3 linked regions of the Homo sapiens genome follow. The protein of the gene in region 3 interacts with the protein of the main gene of each other region in a biochemical or structural test. Each region holds a gene or a part of one and is shown on either strand. Other genes may lie near its edges.

Region 1 (8,093 bases), on a different chromosome or scaffold from region 3:
TTTTTTTGAGATGGAGTCTCATTCTGTCGCCCAGGCTGGAGTGCAGTGGCATGATCTTGGCTCACTGCAACCTCTGCCTCCTGGGTTCAAGCAATTCTTGTGCCTCAGCCTCCCGAGTAGCTGGGATTACAGGTGTGTACCACCATGCCCATCCAATTTTTGTATTTTTAGTAGAGATGGGGTTTCATCATGTTGGCCAGGCTGGTCCCAAACTCCTGACCTCAGGTGATCCACCGGCCTCGGCCTCCCAAAGTGCTGGGATTACAGGCATGAGCCACCGCGCCCAGCTGAACTTGTGTTTTTATCCCTCAGGCAATTAAAAAAGAAAAATGGAAGGGAAAACTGAAAGATCTCTGAAGAATGCCCAGCTCTGTCACACCTGTGATGTGGCCTCTGGAAACCCCTGCCTGTGGGGAAGACTTATCACTGGTACTACTCAGGTGTTCAGGAACAATGGCTCCGAAGTTAGAGGGACCTGGATTAACCTGGCCTGGTCTCAGTTTTCTCATTTATAAAATGGGATAGTAGTATTGATTCCTTGGGTTGTGGGAAGATTAAATGAAATAATCCATGTAATTTGATTACATACTCAGTTGCTCCCATTAGCACATCCTGATTATTCTTACTTAGCATTCAGTCCATGTGTGACTGCACTTATAATACCACATGAATCCAGTGGTCTGTGCCATGTAAATCGGGCCTCTGAGATTTTGCTCAGCCTACAGTGGCATATGGGCAAATACGCTTCTGACCTTGCAAAGCCAGGTGGGCCCTAGCCTGAAGCGACTCACCTTCAGGCTAGGGCTATCATATAGACAGTTGGGAGTCAGGTCAAAGAGCTGTCTTATAGACAGCTGGGAGTTCCTCCAGGCTAACTGGTTGTTCACTGGCTCTGGAGTTGCAGGAATAGACAACGGGCTCTCTGCTGCTCTTGGAAGTATCTCCTAAATTAAACTCCTTAATTAGCCAGGTATGGTGGCAGGCGCCTATAATCCCAGCTACTCAGGAGGCTGAGGCAGGAGAATCACTTGAACCCAGGGGGCAGAGGTTGCAGTGAGCTGATATCGCGCCATTGCACTCCAGCCTGGGCAAAAGATTGAAACTCTGTCTCAAAAAAAAAAACAACAAAAAAAAACAAAAAACTCCTTGGTCTGCCACATGCCACTGCTCTGTGACGTTGCACTTTTGGTTCAAAGACCCAAACAAGGTCTACAATAGCTTACTTATTCTGTCCTCAGGGCCCACTCTCCACTGATCCCTTGTGGGCTTTAGCTGACTAAGCCCAGTGTGGCTGAGTGGTACCCAGCACGGTACCTGCATGGGGAAGGGTTGGCGGGGGCCAGATCAGCTGGCCAGAGCTAGTGGATGCTTCCTTCACAATAGTTCTCCTGCCACCTGAGATCATACAGTATCTCAGCATCTCCTAGGTCAGTCTGGGGTCCAGCCAGAGGCCTGATGAAGCAAACAGCTCTCTGAATACTTACTCTGGAAACTCAGACAGGGAGGCTGAGTGAATCACAGCAAAATCCACCCCAACCCCCATTGGAGCCACAACTGTGCAACTGAAGCTCCTGGGAGGCTAGAATTGAAGAAGTTAGGCAAAGGAGGTCTCTTAGAACCAGCCCCAGATGCCCCTTCTCAGGGAACCCTTCTCAGACAACCCCTCTAGAAGCCCCAGGCCTTGCTTTTCCTAGAAGTGCCCTGCTATGCCTGTGAGCAATGTCACCAAACAAGTTGGCTCAATCAGCCCTTGTAGTGTGCCTCTCTCACTCAGGCAGCCTTGGAGCAGAGAAGGCCTTCAGAAGCCCCTCCCTACTGACTCCCTACCACTCCTGCTCCCTCTTCTTGCTTGGATAGCACTTCATTTCACCTTAACCCTTTGGAGCGGCCTGTCTGGAAAGGAGGTGCCAGGATACAGGATGTGTGGCAGACAAGGCCCAGGTGAGGCTGTGCTATGGCTGCTTCAGCAGGATGCCTACTCCATGCTGAGATCACAGTCTGGTCCTTGTCACTTCTGGCGGTTACTTCCCTCCCTGACAAAGGGTGCTCACTCTCCCTCTGCAAACTTGTGCCCAGAAAGGGTGGCTCACCCAGTACAAGGGACAACCCAGTTGCACCAGGCAAACTGGTGCAAAGTCCGGCCAGGCGCAGTGGCTCATGCCTGTAATCCCAGCACTTTGGGAAGCTGAGGCAGGCAGATCACCTGAGGTCAGGAGTTCAAGACGAGCCTGGCCAACATGGTGAAACCCCGTCTCTACTAAAAAAATACAAAAATACAAAAAATTAGCTGGGCGTGGTGGCGCATGCCTGTAATCCCAGCTACTCGGGAGGCTGAGGCAGGAGAATCGCTTGAACCTGGGAGGCGGAGGTTGCAGAGAGCTGAGATCACACCACTGCACTCCAGACTGGGCAACAAGAGTGAAACTCCGTCTAAAAACAACAAAGCAAAGACCCAAGCCCCTTCCAGGTGCTGCCCCGCTCATCCCAGTTACCTCTGTTGCTTTTTGAGAAGACTCTACCGGCCGAATATGTGTACGTTTGTTGGCGGGGCGGGGGTGGGGGAGTGGGGAGAGTCCTACCTGGCCACTGCCCCCTACCGGATCTCGCCCTCCCAGCCAAAGGATGGGTTCCAGATCTCGCCTTTTGTATTCCCCAGCTGGGGACTAGCCGGCTGAGGGACCGCAGGGAGACACAGTCTTCCCATTGCAAACGATAGCGTTGATGGCTGGAGGCCCCCGTCTTCAAGCCCCTCCCTCCAAAGATGACAGCTCTCCAGTCTCTAGGTGCCTCCAGGCCACGTGGGCTGGCAGTCAACTCACCTGTTTCTCAGAGGAGTCCAGGACGCACAGAAGGTGCCGGTCACTGCCCTCTGCCGGACCCATGGAGGGGTAAGGGTGTCCGGCCGGGGCCGGCCTGAGGGCACAGCTTCGCGGGGCCCCGGCCCCCTGCGTACACAGACATGGCCACAGCGCAGGCACCGCTCCCTCCCACCGCCCTCACCCGGCCGCCGGTGCAGGAAGATAGCTTTCGCCGGCCTCTCGCGGCCAAGGCCCAGCTCCAGCCGCTCAGCCCGACTCGGCCCGCCCCCGGGGTGCATTGTGGGAAATGTAGTCCTTAGCGTTTGGCCGCCTGCGGCGCCGAGGGACTGGTTCTGGGCTCCTAGTCCCAGCAGAGCCGTGGGCAGGTCCTGACCCGGGTCCGCGATTGCCTCATCCGGCGCCGCCTTCTAGGGGCCTGGGCGCCTCCTCCGAGTCTAGAGTCCCACACAGAACAGCCCTGGACTCTGGGCCTCTCCGTCCGAGCCAGCTAGCAGTTCATTTCAAGTGAGAGAAAGGGACGTTAGGATTGTTTCTCCCACTGATTGTGGAAGGACAGTGCAAGTTTGGGGGACTGGATAAATGTCATTAGTGGGCCCAGCCACACAGGCTGTAAAGGATGTGGGCATGCGCAAAAGTCGCACTAATTGTTTCTAAAAACATATTTGTAGCCACGTTTTAATGTATCAGTATAATGCTCTAGAACGGTAGTTCTCAACTCTGACGGCACATAGAATAAGCCGGGAAGCTTTAAAAAAAAAAAAAAAGAACTAGGACGGGCGAGGCGGCTCACGCCTGTAATCCCAACACTTGGGAGACCGAGGTGGGCGGATCACTTGAGGTCAGGAGTTCCAGACCAGCCTGGCCAACATGGTGAAACCCCATCTCTACTAAAAATACAAAAACTAGCCAGGCTTGATGGCGTGTGCCTGTAGTCCCAGATACTCGGGAGGCTGAAGTGGGATTCCAGGAGGTCGAGGTTGCTGTGAGCCATGATCATGCCCTGCACTCCAGCCTGAGCACCAGAGCGAGACCCTGTCTCAAAAACAACAACAAAAAAACTAATGCCTGGACACCAGCCCTAGAGATTTTGATTTAATTGAATTTAGAGTAGGGTGGAGTGTTGGGGAGCCAGGCATCACTATTGTTTTAAAAGCTCCCCAGGTGATTTACCATTGCAAAGAATCATTGTTTGTAATTTCCTAGACGCAAAGCAATAAAAACAACAGGAAAACAGTCAACAACAGGCTCTCCCAAAAGACCCTTATTTTTAGAGATGGTTTTAAAAAGTAAAATTAGTGTTTGGCACCACTGCTCATGTTCTTTTCTGAAGCAATTAATTCACTTTACAGCCTTATGGTTAATTCTCCCAAAAGTTAATAGGATGAAAAAAAAAGTCAGATCACTCCTCTGACTTTCCCTGCTGCTCCACAAGCACCTGGGGGCAGTGTCCTTTTCCTCTCTAAGCCCTACACTGGAGTTAGGGTAGAGCTCCGCCCCTGGGCTTTTCTTCCAGTCTCAGATGGCTGCCACTTGTAGCCTGCTTCCACAACACTGGCCTGTGACTGACATGGTGACAAAGCTGTGGCCTTTCACTGAAGATGGCTTTGCATAAGGCTATCAAGTTCTTGCACATAGTCTAAGGGAAGCTTTCTCACCCCCATGTCCCCCACTTTTAGGTAAGGACATAAGAAAATGCCCTATTCCTTAACTGAGAGTCTCTCCAGGTCTCCACAGATCACTCAGTATTTTATCTCCTCATTAGCTCAGAAGTCCAAGTTCCCTCCCTTAGGGCAAGAATCATTTATACAGTTGTTTTCTCTAATTATTACACTATAAGAGTTTGAGCCATGAGCTGGGCTTGGTGGCACAGCCTTGTAATCCCAATTACTCCACAGGCTGAAGCAGGAAGAATTACTTGAGCCCAGGAGATCAAGTCTGAAGTGAGCCATGATCATGGACAACAAGAAGGAGAAAGTTAAGAAAGAAGGAAGGAAGGGAGGGAGGGAGGAAGGAAGGAAGGAAGGAGAGTTTAAGTCAAGATATAACATTCTCTGCTTGGTACAGAAATGTCCTGGCTATGTTCCTTTCCTTTTTCTTTTTCTTTTTTTATTTTTTTTTTAGAGATGGTGGTTTCACTATGCTATGTTGACAAGGCTGGTATCGAACTCTTGGCCTCAAGCAATTTTCCCATCTTGGCCTCCCAAAGTACTGTGATTACAGGCATAAGCCACCATGCCTGGCTAATATCCTGCCTATATTTCATTAACTTGAATTTACACCCTATAGAATTCATCTCCATAGAAGACAAATTAATTTAATTTACTTATTTTTTTTCAAATGAAGTCTCTATCATCCAGGCTAGAGTGCAGTGGTGCCATCTCAGCTCACTGCAACCTCTGCCTTCTGGGTTCAAGTAGTTCTCTGCCTCAGCCTCCCGAGTGGCTGGGATTACAGGTACCTACCACCACGCCCAGCTAATTTTTGTATTTTTAGTAGAGACAGGGTTTCACCATCTTGGCCAGGCTGGTCTTGAACTCCTGACCTCGTGATCCACCCGCCTCAGCCTCCCAAAGTGCTGGGATTACAGGCATGAGCCACCACACCCCGCCCAGAAGACAAATTTAAAGTTTTCTTTTTTTTTTTTTTTTTGAGACGGAGTCTCGCTCTGTTGCCCAGGCTGGAGTGCAGTGACGTGATCTCAGCTCACTGCAACCTCCGCCTCCCGCGTTCAAGCAATTTTCCTGCCTCAGCCTCCAGAGTAGCTGGGATTACAGGTGCGTACCACCACGCCCGGCAAATTTTTGTGATTTTTGTATTTTTAGTAGAGACATGTTTCACCATGTTGGTCAGACTGGTCTCGAACTCCTGACCTCGTGATTCATCCATCTCGGCCTCCCAAAGTGCTGGGATTACAGGTATGAGCCACTGCGCCCGGCCAGTTTTTTGTTTTGTTTTGTTTTTTTGAGATGAAGTCTTGCTCAGTCACCCAGTCTGGAGTGCAGTGGCACTATCTCGGCTCACTGCAACCTTAGCCTCCCACGTTCAAGCGATTCTCCTGCCTCAGCCTCCCAAGTAGCTGGGACTACAGGCATGCACCACCATGCCCAGCTAATTTTTTTATTTTTAGTAGAGATGGGGTTCCACCATGTTGGCCAGGATGGTCTCAATCTCTTGACCTTGTGATCCGCCCGCCTCGGCCTCCCAAAGTGCTGGGATTACAGGCGTGAGCCACTGCGTCCAGCCTAATTTTTGTATTTTTAGTAGAGACGGGGTTTCACCAATGTTGGCCAGGCTGATCTCGAACTCCTGACCTTGTGATCCGCATCCACCCACCTCGGCCTCCCAAAGTGCTGGGATTACAGGTGTGAGCCACTGCGCCTGACCAAATTTAAAGTTTTCTACCTAACTAGTTCTTGACAGTCTCCATGTTTAGCTCAGGATTTCTTCCAGAGTCTTACTATTCCTGTTAAGCACATCAGCTCCACCAGATAGTACTACTGTCATCTGGAAGTATTACATCTACTTAGCTAAGCAAGTGGCCATATATCTCATATATTTCTCGCTAAGACTTGTGCCTAAGACATTCTCGCAGAGCAAATCATGGTGGGTACTTACTAAAACATCTTAGGTTATTACTTAAAACTTTGTTTTAATCCACTTTTTTTTTTTTTTTTGAAACGGTGTTTCACTCTTGTTGCCCAGGCTGAAGTGCAATGGTGCGATCTCGGCTCACCACAACCTCCTTCTCCCGGGTTCAGGCGATTTTCCTGCCTTAGCCTCCCAAGTAGCTGAGATTACAGGCATGTGCCACCACACCCGGCTAATTTTGTATTTTTAGTAGAGATGGGGTTTCTCCATGTTGGTCAGGCTGGTCTCGAACTCCCGACCTCAGGCAATCCACCCACCTCGGCCTCCCAAAGTGCTGGGATTACAGGCATGAGCCCCCATGCCCGGCCTTGTTTGTTTTTTGAGTCAGGGTCTTAATCTGTCACCCAGGCTGTAGTGCAGTGGCTCACTGCAGCCTTGACCTCCTGGGCCTAAGTGATCCTCCCACTTCAGCCTCCCGAGTGGCTGGGACCACAAGTGTGTGCCACCACATTGGGCAAGTTTTAAATTTTTTGTAGAAATGGCGTCTCCTTATGTTGCCCAGGCTGGTCTGGAACTCCTGGGCTCAAGCAATCCTCCTACCTTGGCCTCCCAAAGTGTTGGGATTACAGGTGTGAGCCACTGTGCCTGGACTGTTTTTATTTTTATATTGAGACAGAGTCTCAATATGTTGCCCAGACTGGCCAGGAACTACTGGGCCCAAGCCATCCTCCCACATCAGCCTCCTGAGTAATTAAGACTACACACCCAGCAAGGATACACTTGAGTTATAACCTTGCAGCACCTCAGGTTCTGACATCTTCACTAAAGCTAGAAAAGAGAAGAAATATGGGGAAGAACAAGACGTCTAATTGTTACATTTCTTCCGCCTTCACTTTTCAGCTGTGGCAAGTTACTTAACCTTTCTGGGCTCTGGTTTCCTTAACTATAAAAGGGGAGGCAGGGAGTGGTGGTTCATGCCTATAATCCCAGAACTTTGGGAAGCCGAGGTGGGTGGATCACCTGAGGTCAGGAGTTCGGGACCAGCCTGGCCAAGATGCTGAAACCCCGTCTCTACTAAAACTACCAAAAAATTAGCTGAGCATGGTGGTGTGAGCCTGTAATCTCAGCTACTCAGGAGGCTGAGGCAGGAGAATCGTTTGAACCCTGGAGGTGGAGGCGGAGGCGGAGGCAGAGGTTGCGGTGAGCCGAGATCGCGCCACTGCACTTCAGCCTGGGTGAAAGAGCAAGACTGTCTTGGAAAAAAAAAAAAAAACTATAAAAGGGGATAATATTGGCCAGGCTAGTGGCTCATGCCTGTAATCCAGCACTTTGGGAGGCTGAGGCAGGTGGTCATGAGGTCAAGAGATCAAGACCATTCTGGCCAACATAGTGAAACCCTGTCTCTACTAAAAATACAAAAATTAGCTGGATGTGGTGGCATGTGCCTATTGTCCCAGCTACTCGGGAGGCTAAGATGGAAGAATCGCTTGAGCCGGGGAGGCGGAGGTCACAGTGAGCCGAGATTGTGCCACTGCACTCCAGCCTGGTGACAGAGCGAGACTCCATCTCAAAAAACAGGGGATAATGTCATATAGTTATTACGAGGATTAAATGAAATCATAGATGAAGTGCCAGCACCATGCCAGGCACGTGGTTTGATAAAGTGTAGCAATTATTATTACCCAA
Region 2 (7,815 bases), on a different chromosome or scaffold from region 3:
GCTCTTCTGCCCTCTCCTACCATACACACACCAGGCCCGAGTCCACATGCTCACTCTGTGGGCACCTGGACTGGGGTAAGGACAAGCTGGAGGAATCTGGACATTTGCAGAGACATGATGGGATGGACAAAGGAACAAGTAGGTTAGATACACAGCAAAGACCACGGGCAGGCGGGTAGAGATGGTACAAGGGCTGACACAGAGCCAGAAAGACACAGCTCAACCACACAGCCCCCACAGTTATCCTCTCAGGTGACACAGAAGTATCCAGCTAGTCACTGAGATCCCAGCAAGTCAATCACTAAGAAACCAGCAGGCCAGACAGAGATGAACCCCCCCACCTCCCGCCACTGACAGAGCTCTGGCTGACCATCCACACACATGGACCCAACCCTGGCTGGCTGGATAGTGCCTGAGGCAGACAGACCTACCCGTGCCAGCCATATTCCCAGTCACTGTCCCCCATTCTGCCTCCCACCTGTTTGCTCACCAGCGTAGATGGCACGGATGGCATCTCCCGCACTCTGCACAAAGGACACCAGGGCGGTCATTACACCCATGGTAGCCGACAGCGCCTCCACACTACCATACCGCGAGTAGATGGGCTTGCCAGCCTCACTCAGCACAAACACATGCTTCCGCTGGCTGCGCCACTCCTCATCACTGGGGTCCCCGCCCTGGCCTCCAGAGCTACTCTCAGGGCTACATGTGGGACTATTCTCAGGGGCTGCAGGACTCCAGAGCCGAGAGGTGCTTGACAGGGCCTCTGACTGGGGCGGTGGTGATGGGCTGGGTGGCTGGTCCTTGTCCTTGGATCCTGAAAGGGAGCCCCTGGTGGGTCATCTGCATGTGAACTCCTAACTAATCCCACATCCCCAAGGACCCACCAAATATCTACTAGCCCCTCCATGACCCCTGCATGCTGACGCAGAACTCCAAGTGTCTCCTATGCCCCTCAATGACCCGATGACTGCCCTAGGACCCCGCAATGATCTCCACTAACATTTAGGTTCCAATGAACTTCCTAAAACCCTAATAAACCAACATATTCTCATTGTTATTCCACTGGACTTGCTATGTTCCTACAGACCAATTACTTCCCTTTCAATCACTGTTATTCCAAAGTCTTCAAAGCACCCCATTGACTCTGGATGACGATTATTCATCTTCAATGATCCCCCATTAACTCCTCTGACCGCTATTTTTTCTCCTGATATCTGCTCACCCAATGGCCACCATTAACATCTATTAATATCTTAACTGTTTGAATGCCCCAACCCCCGCTACTACCCTATCAGTGATGCCCACTGATACCTGATGACCCCTACTAACTCTCCTGGTTGCCCATTTATATTCTTGGTAATGTCCACTATTTCTCCCAATGACTGTCGTTAATATCCACTAACACCCAGATATTTAGGACTCCCCTAATCCACTATTCACTCCCACTGTGGTTCACAAACACCCCAATGACCCCACATTAACAATCATTAACACCTGGTTTTTCAATGACCCTCCATGACTGCCCTGATCCACAAGTTATTCTACTCCATGTCTACTCCCCCCTACCCCCAACAATGACCATCATTAACCTCCACTAACACCCAGCACTTCAGAGACCTTCAGTCACTCCCCTGACCACCTTCAATCTCATTGGTATCCACTCCCCTCCCTACAGTAACCATCATAATATCCACTAACACACAAGACTTTAATGACTTCCATTGCCCCTACCCATGACCATCATTAACATTCACTAAAACCCACAACTTCAACAGCCCCTACTGACACATCCATTTATTCCCATTGATTTCCATTCATCCCCCAATGACAACCATTATTATCCATGTGCAACTATGTCTCAATAATTTTCCCATAAAATCCCAATAATTGCATATTCTGTCACTGACATTCACTGACACTCCCATGTCCCCAAATATCTTTACTCCCTCCTAATAACTGCTCTTACCTGCTATTAATTCCCAAGTCCTCAACCTCCCCATCCACATTTATTCTCAGTGAGGTCCACTGATCCTTCCCAATGACTCCATTTACATCCACTAATTCCAAAGTGATCAATGGCACAGACTTCTCAGTGACTTCCATTAAATCTCAAATGAACAACTTTACACATCCACTAACATTTGGTCCCTTAAAGACTTCCCCAACAGTCTACAAGTGACTTCAATGATGTAAATACTCTGAGTGCCCATCGAACTCCACTGATTCCCCTTCCCACTTCTATTATTTAATAAATAACACCCTACTCCTCAAAAACACTAACTTCTCAACAGTCCTCCTCTGTTGAGTCTATTGACTTTCTTCAGCGCATTCTTTGATCTAAACACTCTAAATCCTCAGTGACCCTCTTTGGTCCTAACAGCCCCCTTTTTGATTCCTCAATGACCTAAACTCACACCAAACCCCCAGTGAACATCCGTTGACAGCCAATGACTTCCTCAATGATGTAAACTACACCATGTGTCCACAGTGACCTCCTCCTGACCCGGCGATGGTTTAAGCCACTTCTCTTAAGTCCCAAGACTCCCTACTGGTCACCCACTGACCCTTCCCCCGTCCAACAATGACAACCCCTAAGGATTCCTTTTAAGACCCCACTAAGTGGAGTCATACCTGTTTCCTCCAGGCCCTCGTCTTCGGGATCCGGCGGGACCGCGTGAACCCCTCCACCTTCTCTAGCTTCCTCACTGGGGAACTGCGTGTCCTCCAAGTCCTCCGCGCCCCCGGGGGCCGGGGCAGCAGTGTCTCCTCCGACCTCCATCTGCACATCCCTGAGTGGGAGGGGAATCGAGGGTGACGGGCGGTGAAAGAAACTTCTGAAAAGCCTTTATAGAGTCAGGCCCCCTTGGACACACTCCTACTGCTCATTTCCCCACGGATTTCAATAGGACGAGACATCCAAAATCATGCCCAAATACGTCCCCCCTCCAACACTTTCCGAAAAGAGGAGACTCTACTGGGCCTCAGGAAATAGAGATATACAAACACCTGTTTTAACTCCGAATCTCAATTGGCCGGATACCATTACTTCCCCGTAGCGGCGGTGGCATCACACTTCCGGGTGCGGCCCGGGAGGTGCCACACTTCCGGGTACGACCCCTCCCAGAAGACACTTCCGGTTGCGGAGCTTTATTGGCTCCTCGCGGCGTCCCTCTCCCGCCGCCTACGGGTGTCCCCTCATAGTTGAGATGGCGCGGGCCACTTCGGATCTACGTCAGGTCTGTTCGGGAGCGCAATGAGACCTCTCTGCACTCCTTTCAACGGATCTGGCTACGGCTGCTAACCCGGGAGAGCGAGGCCCACTTCGCTTACCAGTGGTTGGCGTGAGGGGGGACGCGGCTCGCTCTAGCCAATCCCGGAGTACATAGGGCGCGACCGTCTTCTTTCTGGGCCAATCGAGATGAGCCGCCTCATTTCCCCGCTGTCTACTCCCCCCGCCAAATCCTAACCAATACTGTGCGTTGTGTTGCGTTTGCACACGCCCATCCATTGATTGACGTCTCCCTCGACCCAATCGAAGACTCGAGCCTATTCCTTGTTTCACAAGAGGACTTTTGCAGCGTCAGTCCCGATGGATACCTGTGCCGGACCCACAAACGGGCTCTCCCAGAACTGAGGCAACTCCACTTTCTCTTATCCCTTAACCCTGCCAAGAAAGTCAAGGGAGGGGAGAGGCGCGAATGCTTGACGGGCAGTCGCCGCTTCTAATCAGCGTGCCGCGCCAGCAGCTCCGTACCCTGCCGGGTTCCCACGTCTACCTGCAGCTGGGGGAAGAACTCTGCCAGCCCAGGGCAGGGGCGGGCACTCACTTGGACCAGGACCTGCCCGACGCCCCCGGTCCGCCGGGCGAACGGGTCGTCACTTTCTGTGATCAGTTTGGGAAAAGGCTTGGGGGCCCTGCCACGGGCCAGTGTGGGAACCCAGGGTTCGAATTCCCGCCCCGACGCTGCTTCCGGACCGAAAGCCCCCTGAACGCCTTGCCCCAAGTGCCCTGGGCCTTGGTTTCTCCATCAGTGAAACAATGATGGGAATCGCTTGACGTGAAGTGAGTGGAGGTGCTGGCACACTTCGAGTGATTGCTAAGGGGAAGCCTTTGGTACTAGTTAGGATAATTATTTTAATTACAGTATAGTTAGGGTAATGAATTCCAAATACCAGTGTAGCATCATGTGCTTTATATACAATAGGTAATCGATAAGTAATAAATATTAAATTTATATAACAGAAACAATGGATAAATTTATGTGCATACAAAATATATTTACCTAATACATTTAGAAGTATATAATATATAATAAACATGTAAAAAAGTACAATAAAATAACATCTCATAAGCAAACTTATTTATTAATCTCGCTGTGTTACCCAGGCTGGAGTGCAATGGCAAAATGTTATTGACTCATTGCAGCCTCCGTCTCCCGGGTTCAAGCAATTCTCCTGCCTCAGCCTCTGGAGTAGCTGGGATTACAGGTGCCCGCCACCACGTCCGGCTAATTTTTGTATTTTTAGTAGACATGGGGTTTCGCCATGTTGGCCAGGCTGGTCTTGAACTCCCGACCTCAGGTGATTCACCCGCCTCAGCTTCCCAAATTGCTGGGATTACAGGAGTGAGCCATCATGCCCAGCCCAGGGCTACACACTTTAAACAACCAGATCTCGCAATAACTCCCTCAGTCACTGTCACCAAGAGGATGATGCTAAACCATTCATGAAGGATTCACCCCCAAGATCCGATCAACTCCCACCAGACCCCACCTTCAATAATGGGGATTACCATTCGACATCAGATTTCGGTGGGAACATAGATCCAAACCTTATCAGGGGAGTAGAGGAATAGTTACGCCTTCATCTAGCTTTGTCAATCTGCATTTTTACCTCAGAGGAAGCAATCAGATATGCATTTGTTTCAGGTGAGCAGAGGGATGACTTGGGGTTCGCTCCTTTGTCTCGCACCTGTGAAGATAAACTATCAATTTACGTTGTCAGGGTAAAATTCAACAGAACCGTTTTAGGGTAAAGATCTTGCAGCCCACAAGGAATCCCTAGAGGGCAAATTATGAGGGAAGTATGTAGCTTTATCTTTGTAAATATCTTATTTAGGGATAAACTGGGAGGCAGGTTTGCCTGATGCAGTTCCCAGCTTGACTTTTACCTTTGGCTTAGTAATTTTGGAGTCCTGAGATTTATTTTCCTTTTACACCTGCCTTGTATTTCAACAAAACCATATCACAATTAGGCTCCTTTTAAAAATTCTTGCTGATGTGCTCTGTGAACTTTAAAGATTGTTTTCCAGGGAAAATGGCAGAACTAAGAACAATTGTCACACAGTCTCTTATCTGAAACCCTTAGTGCCAGATGTGTTTTAAATTCACACATTTTCCTGATTTTAGAAATGAAATTAGGTGCATGTGCCATGTATTATATAGAGCCCAGCAAGGGACTGGGAAACACCTGATAACTAAACTCATTTTTTCTGAGTGAAACTTTTTATTACTCCCAGTAAGAGAAACACTAAACCGTCTTATGTTAGTTTAGTTCAGGTTTTACCTCCAAGTGAGCTTTTAAAAATTATTTTTCTGGAGCTTTTTGGATTTCAAAACTGCAGACGTAAGTTTATGGAGCTTTATTAGCATTCCGTGTTTGATGATTTGCCACTCTAAACAATTTCTACAATCAAAGATGAGAGATGGGAACAAGTGAAGGAACATAGAGCCATCTCTGGTGTGTCTGCCTTTTTTTTTTTTTAATCAGAAAAGCAAAGACCAAAAATATCTCAACAAACCTCTCCAGTAGATTTTAAGTTATGGCTCATGGCTTGAACTGCAGAGTGTTTACAAATTGTAGACACACACACAGACACAGAGTTTTTTTCTGTTTGTTTTTTTAACAGATCAAAGATGTCTTTGTGACATTATATATGTTTATACTTCCTGACTTTATGGACACTGTGTAAGTCCCAGGTAATCCCAAGCTACAGATGAGTCTAAGAAAGGACGTAAAGGAAAACACAAAATACTGCCTAGGACTTAAGGACAGGAACTCAGTTAGACCCTCATGTTAAGCCTGAGCTTGATCTCTTACGTACCATTTCTGTTTGATAATAAAGCGTCCAATGTCAGGCTGGGTACAGTGGCTCATGCCTGTAATTCCAGCACTTTGGGAGGCCGAGGCGGGCAGATCACAAGATCAGGAGTTCGAGACCAGCCTGGCCAACATGGTGAAACTAAAAATACAAAAATTAGCAGGGCGTGATGGCAGGTGCCTGTAATTCCAGCTACTTGGGAGTCTGAGGCAGGAAAATCGCTTGAAACCAGAAGGCAGAGGTTGCAGAGAGCCAAGATTGCACCACTGCACTCCGGCCTGGGCAAAAGAGTGAAACTCCATCTCAAAAATAATAATAATAATATTAATAAAATAAATAAATAAAGCACCCAACCTTATAGCTAGGTGAGTATCCAACACCCAGCCCATGATCGAAATCTCAGGCTGTGCAATCACCTGACATCCCATAGTTAGGTGCTCATTCTTTACCAAGGCCTGGTCCCAAACCTGTTCAAAAGAAGAATCATTAACTACAGAAGAGAGGATAGATTTATTTCAAAATCTTACACATCTGTGTAGTGTTTTTTTTTTGTCCTATTGTTGCTTGCCAGATGCTCTGTAGAGCATCCTTATTTGCCATGGACAGTTTGACAATCTATGGGTCTGCTGGATCATAAGCCCCAAGTGGTGGATTAGCTTAACCTGCAGTCTGAACTCACTTTCTTTTGTTCTTCTCACTTGAAATCTACAGGTAATTCTGTAAATGAGTCAAAGTCACACACTGAAATGTGGTATGTGTTGCTTCCAAAATCTAAAAGACTTTTACTATTGTGGATAAATAGTAAAGTATATTTTCTCATTTAAGAATATAATTGACTTATCTAAATGCAAAACCGATGTATTGTGGGGTTTATAATATTTGTAGAAATAAAATGTGTGGCAGCAATAACACAAATGACTGAAGTTATACATGATAGCACATTACTTTAAGGCTCTCACATTTTACATGAAGAATTATTATTTGAAGATATATTGTGAGGAATGAAAGAAGCATTTTGTTGACATGGGGAAAAAAATACAGAAATGCCAAAGAAATTTAATGCCAAAGAAATAATAGGCCAAGAGTTGAGATAAAGTGGAATACTAAGTGTATGCCATCCAAAAGAAAGATGAAAAAGAGGAACAAAACAATAAAGAACAGATTGGACAAATAGAGAACAAACAGCAAGATGCAAGACACTAATTCAACTATGTTAAAAATTGCATTAAATACAAATAAATAGTAGAATTAAAACAGAGATTGTCCAACTGTATATAACATCAGGGCCTAAATATAGGCTCACTACAAGATCTCAATGTAATTATGTGGTCTGTAAAAATATAAATGGGCCAGGCGTGGTGGCTCATGCCTCTAATCCCAGCACTTTGGGAAGTTGAGGTGGGTGGATCACTTGAGGTCAGGAGTTCGAGACCAGCCTGGCCAACATGGTGAAACCCTGTCTCTACTAAAAATATAAAATTAGCTGGGTGTGATGGCATGTGCCTGTAATCCCAGCTACCTGGGAGTCTGAGGCAGGAGAATCAGTTGAACTTGGGAGGTGGAGGCTGCAGTGAGCCAAGATCATGCCATTGTACTCCAGCCTGGGCAAAAAGAGCGAAACTCCATCTCAAAAATAAATAAATAAATAAATAAATAAATAAATAAATAAACACCAACAAAAAAAGGGACTCCTGTAAATATACAAAAAAAAA
Region 3 (7,103 bases):
CCCATCTCCACTACAAATACAAAAATTAGCCTGGCGTGGTGGCGCGTTCCTGTAATCCCAGCTACTCGGATAGCTAAGACGGGAGAATTGCTTGAACTGGGGAGGTGGAAGTTGCGGTGAGACGAGATTGTGCCACTGCATCCCAGCCTGGGTGACTGAGTGAGAATCTGTCTCAAAAACAATTAAAAAAAAAAAAGTTCTAGTCTCCAGAGCAGCAGCAGCGGCACCAGCAGCAGCAGCATCATAAACTCATAAATCAAAGAAACATGGGTAAGTGTGATTATGTTAAAAACATACACACAGCCAAAATTACCAGAAGCAATGTCAAAAGAAATGACAAAGGCGAACGCAGCCTACAAAGGGCGCATGTGCAGAGGGGCCTACAAACAGGCTCATTCTCGGCAGCACTGCCTCCAACAGCGTAGAGAGGAAAAAAATGCTCTCCAACAGAAAGCTGATTTAATACATTATGTACATCCAAACAATGGAACTCTATGCAGCTTCAAATGAGAATAAACAAGTATTGCCATACGTGGTAGAAAATGACTCAGAGATATTATTAAGAGAATAACGCAACATACCAAAGTATATATATCATATGCTACTACTTGTACAAAAGTGGGGAGGGATTATATACTATGAGCTGTAGCTGCATATAATATCCCCCCACCCCAAATTAAAAGAGAAATAGTGATTGCTTCTGGGATAAGGGGCAGTCTGAGAACTGGGGTAAAAAGTAGCTTCAGGCCAGGCACAGTGGCTCACGCCTGTAATTCCAGCACTTTCAGAGGCCGAGGCAGGTGGATCATCTGAGGTCAGGACATCGAGATCAGTCTGGGCAACATGGTAAAATCCCGTCTCTACTAAAAATACAAAAATTAGGCGGGCGTGGTGGTGGATGCCTGTAATCCCAGCTACTTGAGAGGCTGAGGCAAGAGAACTGCTTGAACCCAGAAGGCGGAGGTTGCAGTGAGTCGAGACTGTGCCACTGCACTCCAGCCTGGGCAACAGAGTGAGACTCTGCCTCAAAAAAAAAAAAAAAAAAAAAAAGGGCCGGGCGCAGGTGGAAGCTCAGGAGGCTGGACAACACGGTGAAACCCCGTCTCTACTAATACACAAAAAAATTAGCTGGGCGTGGTGGTGTGTGCCTGTAATCCTAGTTACTTGGGAGGCTGAGGCAGGAGAACTGCTTGAACCTGGGAGGTGAAGGTTGCAGTGAGCTGAGATTACACCAGTGCACTCCAGCCTGGGTGACAGTGTGAGACTCCATCTCAAAAAAAAAAAGATTTTCTTCTTTGTCTGCAGAGTGGAAGATTTATGAAGACTCAAAAAGCACAATCTAAAAGAACAAAAGTGATATATTTACCTGCTTTAGGGTGAAGGACTCACACTTCTGATTTCAAAGCTTATGGCAAAGCTACTGTAATCAAGACAGTGTAGTACTGGCATAAGGACGGACATACAGACATATAGATCAGTGAAACAGAACTAAAAGACCAAAAACAGACCCTTACATTTGTGGACAATTGATTTTTGACAAGGGTACCAAAACAATTCAATGAGGAAAATACAGTCTTTTCAACAAATAGTGCTGGAACAAATAGATATCCATGTGTAAAAAATGAAATTTGGACACCCACCTTGCATTACATACAGAATTAACTTAAAATGGGTTGAAGACCTAAACATAAGATGTAGAAAAATTATAAGCTGGGCGCGGTGGGTCACACCTGTAATCCCAGCACTTTGGGAGGCTGAGGCGGGAGGATTGCCTGAGCTCAGGAGTGTGAGACCAGCCTGGGCAACATAGTGAGACCTGTCTCTTTAAAAAATAAAAAATTATAGAACTCTTAGAAGGAAACATCAGAGTGAATCTTTGTGATCCTGGGGTAGGCAATGGCTTCTCAGAGATGATACTGAAAGCACAAGTAACAAGAGAAAAACTGGATAAAAGAGACTTCACCAAAATTTAAAACTTTAGTGCATCGAACGACACCAATCTCACCAAGAAAGTGAAAAGAACTCACAGAACAAAAGAAAATACTTGGAAATCATGTATCTGAGGAGAGACTTGCATTTAGAATCTATTAAGAATTCTTACAATTCTGTAATAAAAATGACAGAACCCAATTTTAAAAATGGGCAAGTGATCTGAACAGACATTTGTTTAGCTGAAGACAAAGGCCAACAGGCACAAGAAAAGATGATCAACATCCTTAGTCATTATGGAAATGCAAATAAAAACTACAATGAGACACCACTTCATACTCAGTAGGATGACTAAATTCAAAGAATAACAGGCCAGGCATGGTGGCTCACGCCTGTAATCGCAGCACTTTGGGAGGCTGAGATAGGTGGATCACCTGAGGTCAGGAGTTCAAGACCAGCCTGACCAACATGGCGAAACCCCATCTCCACTAAAAATACAAAAACTAGCCAGGCGTGGTGGTGCATGCTTGTAATCCCATCTACTCAGGAAGCTGAGGCGGGAGAATTGCTTGAGCCTGGGAGGCCGAGGTTGCAGTGTGCCAAGATCGAGATCGCACCACTGTACTCCAGGCTGGGTGACAAAGTGACAATCCATCTCAAAAAAAAAAAAAAAAAAAAAGACAGAATAATAAGTCTGTCCATGTGGATATACAACTGGAACCCTCCCACACTGCTGCTGGGAGTACAAACGGTACAGCTTCAGTGCAAAAGAGTTTGGCAGCTCCTCCAAATGTTAAATGCAGAGTTACCACAACTCAGCAATTCTACTCCTAGGGGTGTGTGTGTGTGTATGTATGTGTGTATGTATGTATGTATGTATGTATGTATGTATGTATGTATGTATTTTTGAGACAGAGTTTCACTCTTGTTGCCCAGGCTGGAGTGCAATGGCGTGATCTCAGCTCACTGTAACCTCCACCTCCCAGGTTCAAGCAATTCTCCCGCCTCAGCCTCCCAAGTAGCTGGGATTACAGGCATGCGCCATCATGCCTGGCTAATTTTGTATTTTTAGTAGAGACGGGATTTCTCCATGTTGGTCAGGCTGGTCTTGAACTCCCAACCTCAAGTGATCCATCCACCTCAGCCTCCCAAAGTGCTAGGATCACAGGCGTGAGCCACCACGCCCAGTCTCTACTCCTAGGTATATCTAAGAGAAATGAAACCATACATCCACATAAAAACTTTTCACAATATTCACAGTATCGTGACAGCCAAAAAGTGGAAACAACCCATCAGGTGTCCATCAGCTGATGAATGATAATATCATTACAATGGAATACTATTCAGCAATAAGAAGGAATGAAGGCCTCGCGCAGGCTTCAACCTGGGTGAACCCTCAAAACATTACACTAAGTGAAGATGCCAGACACAAAGGACCATTTATGTATTATAGAATTTCATTTCTAAAAAATCTCCAGAATAAGTTCAAAACCAGCCTGGACAACATAATAAGACGCTGTCTCTCCAAAAAATAAAAATAGAAAAAAAAAGAAATTAAAAAAAAATTAGCCAGGTGTGGCGGCACATGCCTGTAGTTCCAGCTACTCAAAAGGCTGAGGCTGAAAATTCGTTCAAGCCTAGGAGGTCAAGGCTGCAGTGAGGTATTATCACGTCACTGCACTCCAACCTGGGCAAAAGAGTGAGACTCTATCTCAAAAAAAGAAGAAAAGGAAAACTCCAGAATAAGCGAATTCATACAGACTGAACTAGATTAGTGGCTGCCAGAGGCTGAGGGAAGGAAAGATAGCGACAGACTGCTACTGGGCATGGGGATTCTTTTCGGAATAGTTAAAATGTGCCATACTTAGAGAGTGGAGATAGTTGCACAACTTTGTAAATACACTAAAAACCACTGAATTTTGCACCTTAAAGGAGAGAATTTCATGGCATTGTGAGTTTTTTTTTTTGTTTTTTGTTTTTTGTTTTTTTGAGATAGAGTCTCCCTCTGTCGCCCAAGCTGGAGTGCAGTGGCGCAATCTCGGCTTACTGCAACCTCCACCTCCCGGGTTCAAGTGATTCTCCTGCCTCAGCCTCCTGAATAGCTGGGACCACAGGGACCCACCACCACACCCGGTTAATTTTGTATTTCTAGTAGAGACGGGGTTTCCCCATGTTTCCCAGGCTGGTCTCAAACTCCTGATCTCAGGTGATCCACCCGCCTCAGCCTCCTAAAGTGCTAGGATTACAGGCATGAGCCACTTACCTCAGCCAGTATTGTGAGTTATAATAAATAAAGCTAATATTTTAAAATTTTAAAATTTAACTACTTTTAATGGGAAGTGTCTACATGATAAAAGACATTATACACAAAGTTAAGCCAGGCGCGGTGGCTCACGCCTGTAATCCCAGCAGTTTGGGAGGCGGAGGCGGGCGGATCATGAAGCGGATCCTGGCCAAGCAACATGGTGAAACCTTGTCTCTACTAAAAATACAAAAATCAGCTAAGCATAGTGGCGCACACTTGTAATCCCAGCTACTCAGGAGGCTGAGGCAGAAGAATCCCTTGAACCCAAGAGGCGGAGGCTGCAGTGAGCTGAGATCGCGCCACTGCGCTCCAGCCCGGGCGACAGAGCGAGACTCCGTCTCAAAAAAACAAAACAAAACAAAAAAACAAAGTTAAAAGACAAGTCACAGACTGGGAAGATACTTGCAGCTTTTATAATCCATAATGATCAACATCCAGAATATACAAAGAATTACTCAAAAAGAAAAAACGGGCAAAGAAAATGAACAATTTGTTGAACAGAAAATCTTAAACATCAATAAACATATAAAATGGGACTCAGCTTCACAGTAATCAGTACTGTGGTATGCTCACACTCATAAACTGGGCAAAAATTAATGCCTGAAGTTAAGGAAATGCCAAACTTACTTTGAATGCACCCTCTGATTCCATGGATAAGAGATCCCCATCGAATGGAATGAGATCTAAGCTGTACTCCTCCCTGTGAATAAAGGATCCCAAGACACCCAGATCCTTCAACCGCTGTTCGCACAACAGGCTACGGCGTGGCACAAACAGAATATGAAAATCTCTCGTTGGGCCTCGTCTATCTTCACTGCAAAGGAAGCAACATTTGTTAGCTTATGAGCTCCTAAGAGTCATGGACCATTTTGCTTTTTTTATCCCCACTGCCTGGCACATAGCAGGCACTAAATAAATGCTGGCTAGATAAATCATATAAATACTGACTCTCAGGCCGGGTGCAGTGGCTCACACCTGTAATCTCAGCACTTTGGGAGGCCAAGGCGGGCGGATCAGTTGAGGTCAGGAGTTCGAGACCAGTCTGGTCAAGGTGGCAAAACCCCGTCTCTATAAAATATACAAAAATGGCTGGGCGCAGTGGCTCATGCCTGTAATCCCAGCACTTTGGGAGGCCGAGGCGAGCGGATCACGAGAACAGGAGGTGGAGACCAACCTGGCCAACACGAAGAAACCACGACTCTACTAAAAATACAAAAAATTAGCCGGGCATGGTGGCAGGCACCTGTAATCCCAGCTACTTGGGAGGCTGAGGCAGGAGAATCGCTTGAAACCGGGAGGCAGAGGTTGCAGTGAGCCGAGACCACGCCACTGCATTCCAGCCTGGGCAACACAGCGAGACTCCATCTCAAAATAAATAAATAAAAACTAAAACAAAAATATACAAAAATCAGCTGGGCATGGTGGTGTGTGCCTGTAATCTCAGCTACTTGGGAGGCTAAAGCAGGGGAATTGCTTGAACCCTGGAGGCAGAGGTTGCAGTGAGCAGAGATTCCACCACTGCACTCCAGCCTGGGCAACAGAGTGAGACTGTGTCTCAAAAAAATAACCAAAAACTGACTCAGACCCAACGTGTTACAGCTGTACCCACTCTCTCTCTCTTTCTTCCCCCTGACAGGAAAGCATCACTGAGTCCTGGCGAGTACATTTTAGCATTCTCTTAAACCATTTATGGGGCATTGAAGCTCTCAGGTTGATTGAAATAGGATATCTGTGTCTCAATAAAAACAAATGGTTCTTCAACCAAAGCAATGCAGCCACAAAGAGTCTTAAATTAAAATGAAAGATCACTTTTGACTCCCACTCCTACTCTCCTTGACAGAGAACTTCCAAAAATAGCCCATATGCTTTTAAGATTTTAGGGGCTGCAACAATCAATTGTACCACAGAGTGCAGACTCGGCTGGGAGCACTTCCTCTATAGACTGGATGCTATATTAAAATTTAATCAGCTTTTTTTTTTTTTTTGCTTATGAAATTCAAGTACATGCAGTATATTTAAAAATAACTGCTGGAGGTTTATTTTTTTAAACTAGGGCCCTTTTTACTGACACAGGTTTAAGCTTTTGGCTATCTTTAAAGAATGGGTAGCTTTTGGCTATCTTGAAAGAATGGGTAGATAGGATGATCCTCCTCTCCAACTGCTGACAACAACTTCCTAAGTTTCTCATCCTCTCTATTTTTAATTTTTGGGGGGTACATAGCAGGCGCATGTATTTATGGGGTCCATGAGATGTTTTGATGTGGGCATGCAATGTGAAATAAGCACATCACGGAGAATGGGGGGACACATCCTCTCAAGCACTTACTCTTTGAGTTACAAAACAATCCAATTACACTCTTTTTTTTTTTTTTTTTTTGAGACGGAGTCTCCCTCTGTTGCCCAGGCTGGAGTGCAGTGGCGCGATCTCAGCTCACTGCAACCTCTGCCTCCCGGGTTCAACAGACTATCATGCCTCAGTCTCCCGAGTAGCTGGGACTACAGGCACAGGCCACCAAACCTGGCTAATTTTTGTATTTTTAGTAGAGACGGGGTTTCACTATGTTGGCCAGGCTGGTCTCGAACCCCTGACCTCAAGTGATCCACCCGCCTTGGCCTCCCAAAATGCTGGGATTACAAGTGTGAGCCACCATGCCCAGTCTCACTTTTTAAGTTTAAAAATACGTAATTATTATTAACTATAGTCACCCTGTTGTGCTATCAAATAGTAGGTCTTATTCTATTTTTTGTTGTACCCATTAACTATCTCCACCTCCCCCCAGCCCCCATCTTCTCTTTTATATTCTTCCATGCCTATCTCAGTTTTCCAAAAGACCACCTTGCACTGGCAAGAGTGAGGGTCTTCCATGAG

What was found.
Region 1: the proteins of VPS33A (region 3) and MON1A form a complex in vitro, tested with the Homo sapiens proteins (one study listed by BioGRID).
Region 2: the proteins of VPS33A (region 3) and MON1B form a complex in vitro, tested with the Homo sapiens proteins (one study listed by BioGRID).

What each region holds. Positions count from the first base shown.
Region 1 is NC_000003.12:49,926,790-49,934,882, forward strand, and holds the start of MON1A (vacuolar fusion protein MON1 homolog A), read right to left. Parts: upstream 3,023-8,093; 5' UTR 2,820-3,022; intron 2,747-2,819; exon of another isoform or gene 2,580-2,746; intron 2,546-2,579; exon of another isoform or gene 2,493-2,545; intron 1-2,492. UniProt on the Homo sapiens protein: Plays an important role in membrane trafficking through the secretory apparatus. Not involved in endocytic trafficking to lysosomes.
Region 2 is NC_000016.10:77,186,453-77,194,267, reverse strand, and holds the start of MON1B (vacuolar fusion protein MON1 homolog B), read right to left. Parts: upstream 3,079-7,815; 5' UTR 3,047-3,078; coding exon of another isoform or gene 3,010-3,046; intron 2,793-3,009; 5' UTR 2,783-2,792; coding exon 2,635-2,782; intron 818-2,634; coding exon 491-817; intron 1-490. Other genes in the region: uncharacterized protein LOC124903725, read left to right, coding at 3,702-4,046.
Region 3 is NC_000012.12:122,256,400-122,263,502, forward strand, and holds part of VPS33A (vacuolar protein sorting-associated protein 33A), read right to left. Parts: intron 5,049-7,103; coding exon 4,862-5,048; intron 1-4,861.